Linked DNA regions of Homo sapiens: region 1 is linked to region 2. Evidence: fine-mapped expression QTL. A gene starts in region 2. The other region holds a variant in brackets. All regions are shown on one strand. Distances are from middle to middle.

What was found. PIP is the estimated chance that this variant, and not a neighbour inherited with it, causes the effect.
Region 1: its variant is the best candidate, but not a certain one, in a credible set for the expression of DNAH1 in testis (GTEx, PIP 0.64).

The regions. Positions count from the first base shown.
Region 1 is chr3:52,415,180-52,417,909 of GRCh38, reverse strand. All of the region lies in intron 4 of PHF7 (PHD finger protein 7), which reads right to left. Among named protein-coding and RNA genes, the nearest start is that of PHF7, 5.9 kb to the right of the region's middle. The variant G/A (reference allele first, on the strand shown) is at 1,634.
Region 2 is chr3:52,314,946-52,317,969 of GRCh38, reverse strand. DNAH1 (dynein axonemal heavy chain 1) reads right to left here and starts at 1,651. Exons shown (of 78, transcript NM_015512.5): 1 at 1,425-1,651. RefSeq lists a silencer at 31-260 and an enhancer at 199-1,137.

The DNA of each region.
Region 1 (2,730 bases), 100 kb before region 2:
ACCTAGAGCTAACATACTTTAATAGTGAAAAACTAGATGCTGTCCCCTGATGTTGGGAACAAGACAAGGATAACAACTCACACCACTTCTATTCAATGTTAGGTTAAAGGTCCTAGCCAATACAACAAGGCAAGAAGAAATAAAAGGCAAAGATTGAGAGAAAGAAGTAGAACTGTCTTTATTCACACATGACATGGTTATGTGCATAGGGAATCCTGTAACAAGGCATTTACAACAAAATAAAAAAACAACTAATCAAACTCAATTTAACAAGATTACAGGATACAAATCAATATACAAAAATAAAATGCATTTCTATATACCAGCAATAAACTTAAAAATGAAATAAAAATACTATTTACAATAGCATAACCACAGAATATTTAGGAATACATTTAACAAAAGATGTACAAGACTTTGTCACCAAAACAACAAAACATTGCTGAGATATATTTTAAAAGACCCAAATAAGTGGAAAAATATACCATGTCCATGGATTGGAAGGTTCAATATTTTTTGTCAATTCTTCCCAAATTGACCTATAAATTCAATGCAATCCCAATCACAATCCCAGTAGACTTTTTTTTTAAAGAAAAATTGACAAGCTTAATATAAACTTTATAAAGAAAGGACCTGATAGTCAAAACAATCTTGGAAAAGATTGTAGAACTTAACAATACTGAATTTCAATATACTATAAAGCCACAATAATCAAGACAGTGGGGACTTGTGTAAGAATAGATACATAGATCAATGACATAAATAGATTATCCAGATCCACAGATATATGGTCAATTGATTTTGACAAAGGCACCAAGGCAATTCTATGGGTAGGTAAAGATTTCTTGCAACACACAAAAAGCACTGACCATAAAAGAAAAAAATGGATAAACTGGGCTCCATTACAATTACAAACTTGTTCTTTGAAAGACACCATTAAGAAAATGAAAAGGCAAGCCAAAGACTAGGAAGAAAATAGTCTCAATACATATATTTGAAAAAGAATTTGTATCTGAAATATATAAGCAATTCCTACAACTCAATAATAAAACCACTCAATTTTTTTTTTTTTTTTTTGAGACGGAGTCTTGCACTGTCGCCCAGGCTGGAGTGCAGTGGCGTGATCTCGGCTCACTGCAAGCTCCACTTCCTGGGTTCACGCCATTCTCCTGCCTCAGCCTCCCGAGTAGCTGGGACTACAGGCGCCTGCCACCATGCCCGGCTAATTTTTTTATTTTTAGTAGACACAGGGTTTCACCGTGTTAGCCAGGATGGTCTCCATCTCCTGACCTCTTGATCTGCTCGCCTCGGCCTCCCAAAGTTCTGGGATTACAGGCGTGAGCCACTGTGCCCGACCACCACTCAGTGTTTTTAAATGGGTAAAAATATTTGTACAGATACTTAACAAACGAAAATATGTGGGCCGGGCCAGGCGCGGTGGCTCACGCCTGTAATCCCAGCACTTTGGGAGGCCGAGGTGGGCAGATCACGAGGTCAAGAGATCGAGACCATCCTGGCTAACACGGTGAAACCCTGTCTCTACTAAAAATATAAAAATTAGCCATGCGTGGTGACAGGCACCTGTAGTCCCAGCTACTTGGGAGGCTGATGCAGGAGAATTGCTCCAACCCGG[G/A]AGGTGGAGGCTGCAGTGAGCCAAGATCATACCACTGCACTCCAGCCTGGGCGACAGAGCGAGACTCCATCTCAAAAAAAAAAAAAAACCAAAAAACCAAAGAAAATATGTGAATGGCCAATATGCACATGAAAAGAAGCTTTAGTCATCAGAAAAATGGAAATTAAAACGACAATGAAATACCAATACACACCCAGTAGAATGGCTAAAATTAAGAACACTGACAAAACAAAGTTCCGGCAAGAATACTGTGCAACTGGACTTCTTATAAATTGCTGGTAGGAGTGTAAGCTGGTACAACCGCTTTGGACAGTGATGTGGCAACCTCACATAAAGTTAAATATCTAATTAGCATACAACTAGTAATTCCACTTCTAGGCATCTGCACAAGAGAAGTGAAAGCACATGTTCACAAAGAGACTTGTACATGAATGCTTAAAGTAGCTTTATTCATAATAGTCCTCAAATGGAAACAATTCAGATGTTCATCAACAGGTGAACAGATAAGCAAATAGTAACTTATTCATGCAACCGAATACTACCAAGTAATAAAAAGGCACAAGCTATGAATGCATGCAACAACATGGATGAATCTCCAAAACACTGTGTTGGGAGAAAAAAGCCAGATACAGAAGATTATAAACTATATGATTTCACTTATATGAAGTAAAAGAATAGCCAAAAATAATCCATAGATCAGAACAGTGATTACGTCTAGTGGGATTGACTGGAAAAGGAGGCAGGAGGGAACTTTCTGGGGTGATGAAAATATTACCTATTTTGATTGGGGTGGTGGTTATTTGGGGACATACATTTATCAAAACTTATCAAACTGGACCCTTAAAATTAGTGAATTTTGTTCAAGACCAGCCTGGCTAACACGGTGAAACCTGTCTCTACTAAAAATACAAAATTAGCCAGGCATGGTGGTAGGTGTCTGTAATCCCAGCTACTTGGGAGGCTGAGGCAGGAGAATCACTTGAACCAGGGAGGCAGAGGTTGCAGTGAGCCGGGATCACGCCACTGCACTCTAGCCTGGGCAAGAGAGTGAGACTCCGTTCTCAAAAAAAGAAAAAAATTGGTGATTTTTACAGTAT
Region 2 (3,024 bases):
CTCCGCGCCTTTTCGAGGTCCCGCTGCCCGCGCTGGCCCCGCAACCCCTCCGCCTCACCGACGTACCGGTTCCACCGAGCAGTGCGGGGATGCATCAGCCCCGTCTCTAGGGAGGGACGCTAGGCCGTTGCTAAGGGGCGGGGCCATCCGGCACCGCAGGGCGGGAGCTTCCGTCCGCGAACCTCCCCAGCCTGAACCCTTACCTACCCACCAACTCCAGGTCTCGGTTACTTCCGCCCAGGACAGTGGGACTGGGATGTTCCAGCATATGCCCCGATCGGCAGGATTAGGGCCGACCAGGGAGCGTCACTCTTCTAGGCTCCATTACCCACCCATCTTCCCTCCTGTGCCCTTTTAGAGTAAGCAGCGAAACAGCTAAATGCAGCGTGAGAACTTTGATTAAATCCTGATTTAAATACATATACATATGTAAATAATTTGGGGAGGAATAATTGAAGAAATTTACGAACTGGAAGTTGGCATTTAAGCCACAGCTGCGGGACAGCTGGTCAGGGCACTGAGGAAAAGGTGGGTTCTGGTTCTCCTGGGGCTTGGCTCACAAAGCCACACCCACCCATTGCACGGTGACTCCACTCAGGCCGCCGCTTCCGCTGGGCAGCGGATGCGCCCGACACCCCTCGGCTCGGGCGCCCACCCTCTGATGCCCCTCATCTGCTCTCAGCACCTGGCATGGGTTCAGGTTTTGATCTTCCTGCCCTATTCTGAATATTGAATTATTGTTAATTTTCTTAGATGTGATAATGCTACTGTGGTTGTATCAGACTGTCCTTAGTTGACGTGGCCTGAAGTGTTTGAAGAAACACGTCAGAATGTCCGCTACAATTTCCTTTCAAATGGTTCAGCAAAAATTATACATATAGGTAAGCATAGCTAGATAAAAAGACAAAGAGGAGATAAAGCAAAAGTGCTGCAATATAACAATTAGGGAATCTGAAGGTCACAGATGTCCATGTACTAGTCTTCCAATTTTTTCTGTAAGGGAAAGAAGTGGTTTACAAACCAAAAGAACCAAAAGAAAAACATCACCCCATCTGTACCTGAGAACCCCTGCCCACAGCCTTCTCAAAACTGGCCCCATTTCACAGATGGGGAAACAGACTTGCTGAGACGGTTAGTACTAGGGGAGGTCATAGGCCCTGATGTTGAATTTTACTTGGCATTTTAGTCGTGCTGGCTTGGTGCCAGGCCTGTTGCTGGGCACTAAGTGTCTGGAACTGAACTGGACCCTATCCCCACCATAAAGTGTATTGAGTGGGAAAGATGGAGAGGCCAGGCCATGAGGAACCTAGAGGCAGGGTGTAATCTATGCCTGGAGACAGTGGTTCAGCCCTTGCACAGGCTTCTGCTTCCTCTGTCTAGAACCTGTCTCCATCCACTCCTGCATCTGGCGGACTCCTACTCACCCTTCAAGACCTGATGGTGGTGCAACCTTTCCTGAATCCAAACTGTGGTTTTATTTTTCTTGTTGGCATTCACACAGGTACTCAGTGATCACTGCAGAAGGAAGAAAGGACTGTGAGGGGAACTGGAGGCAAGGTGTCCACAGCTCTTAGAAGGGACAAGGACTCCATAGCCCTGTTTAGGGCAGTCTGGCTGCTCAATGGGTCTGCGTATAGGTTGGGTACCCCCCTTGGCCTGTAGAGAGGCACCTGCTTCCCTGCTTTTGCCTGGCACTTCCCACACTAGGTACAGCTGTCCAAAAAGCTGCAGCATCTATCCGGGTTGCCATGGCAACATCAGCCTATGGTGGGATGTCAGGGATGAGAGGGGCAGAATGCTAATCCTGGAAAGTTGCCAAGCAACACAGTGGGCTGGTGACATCACAGGGGCTGTGGCTGCTGGACAGATGGACAGGCCACAGCTGAAAGGGTCCACTCTCAGGAGGCCCAGCTCACAGAACCACTCACTGCTTACCATGTGATGGTCACTGCTGTTTCTCCCAACTGGAGAATGGACTTGAGGGGTGGGGGTCGGGGGTGCTGCTTTTACCAGCAGCCCTGCCAGCTCCACTTCGCCCCTCTTCAAGGGCGGGCTGTGGATATGACTGCCTCCCTCCTCCCTGGAAGGACACCGTGAGTCAGTCCCTGTTCTCCTGGGTCTCAGGGGCTACCCTCTAATGTGCTGTCTTCTCCCATGGCTGCGCAAGGGTTCAGGCTTTGGTCTTCCTGCCCTGTCCTGAAGGCCACCATACTTACCTTGCTCCCTGGGAAAGGAGCAGGGGGCTGAGCCATGACCCACTGGACTCCTGCCCCTCTTGTGATGGGAGGGCCATCTTTTGCCCTGAATAAGCTGGAAGAGAGGTCAGCCTTACCCTTGTTGAAATGGGAGGACTAGGTTTCTACAAGAGTTGGGGAGTCACTGCCCATCTCTTACTCAGATCCCCCTTGCTGAGGACTCTGGTGGCCTGGAAGCTGGGGGATTGGGGCAGATGGGCTGCTTAGGATGCCCTGGCCCAGGGCCATGCCTTTCCAGCATGGAGTCTGAGGTCATGGCAAGTCTGCACACCCCCTCCCCTGTGTCTCCTTGCTGGCTGAGATGGGAGCAATGCTTCACTGGCTGCAGAGATGAAAGCCCCTTGTGAATGGGCAGCAGAATGGGCCCTTCATGTGGCTGGCCAGCCAGAACGGAAGGTGACAGGCATCCAGACTGAGTGGCTGAGCTACCCGCTCCCCACCTGTCCCCAGCCTCCCTCTTGGGCCCCCAGGATCTTCCTCTGATTTTCTAGGCCTGGAGCTCTGAGCTATGCCACAAGAAAGTGAGTTGCAGGCATCGGGGGCGGGGGGTGTCAGAGAAGGGAATGGGTGAGGTCTACGATTCACTGCCTCCCCAGGCCTCCCCGACATAAGCCTCCCTGCCATTGCTCAGCTGCCCTCAGCAGTTCTGACCAGCATAATCATTTCTTTGATGAATAAAAATGGAGAAAATTTAATTCTCCTTTGATCCACATGATCACCTTGACAGACAAGACCTTGAAAGCCCAGAGCTCAAGCAAGGAGTAGAACA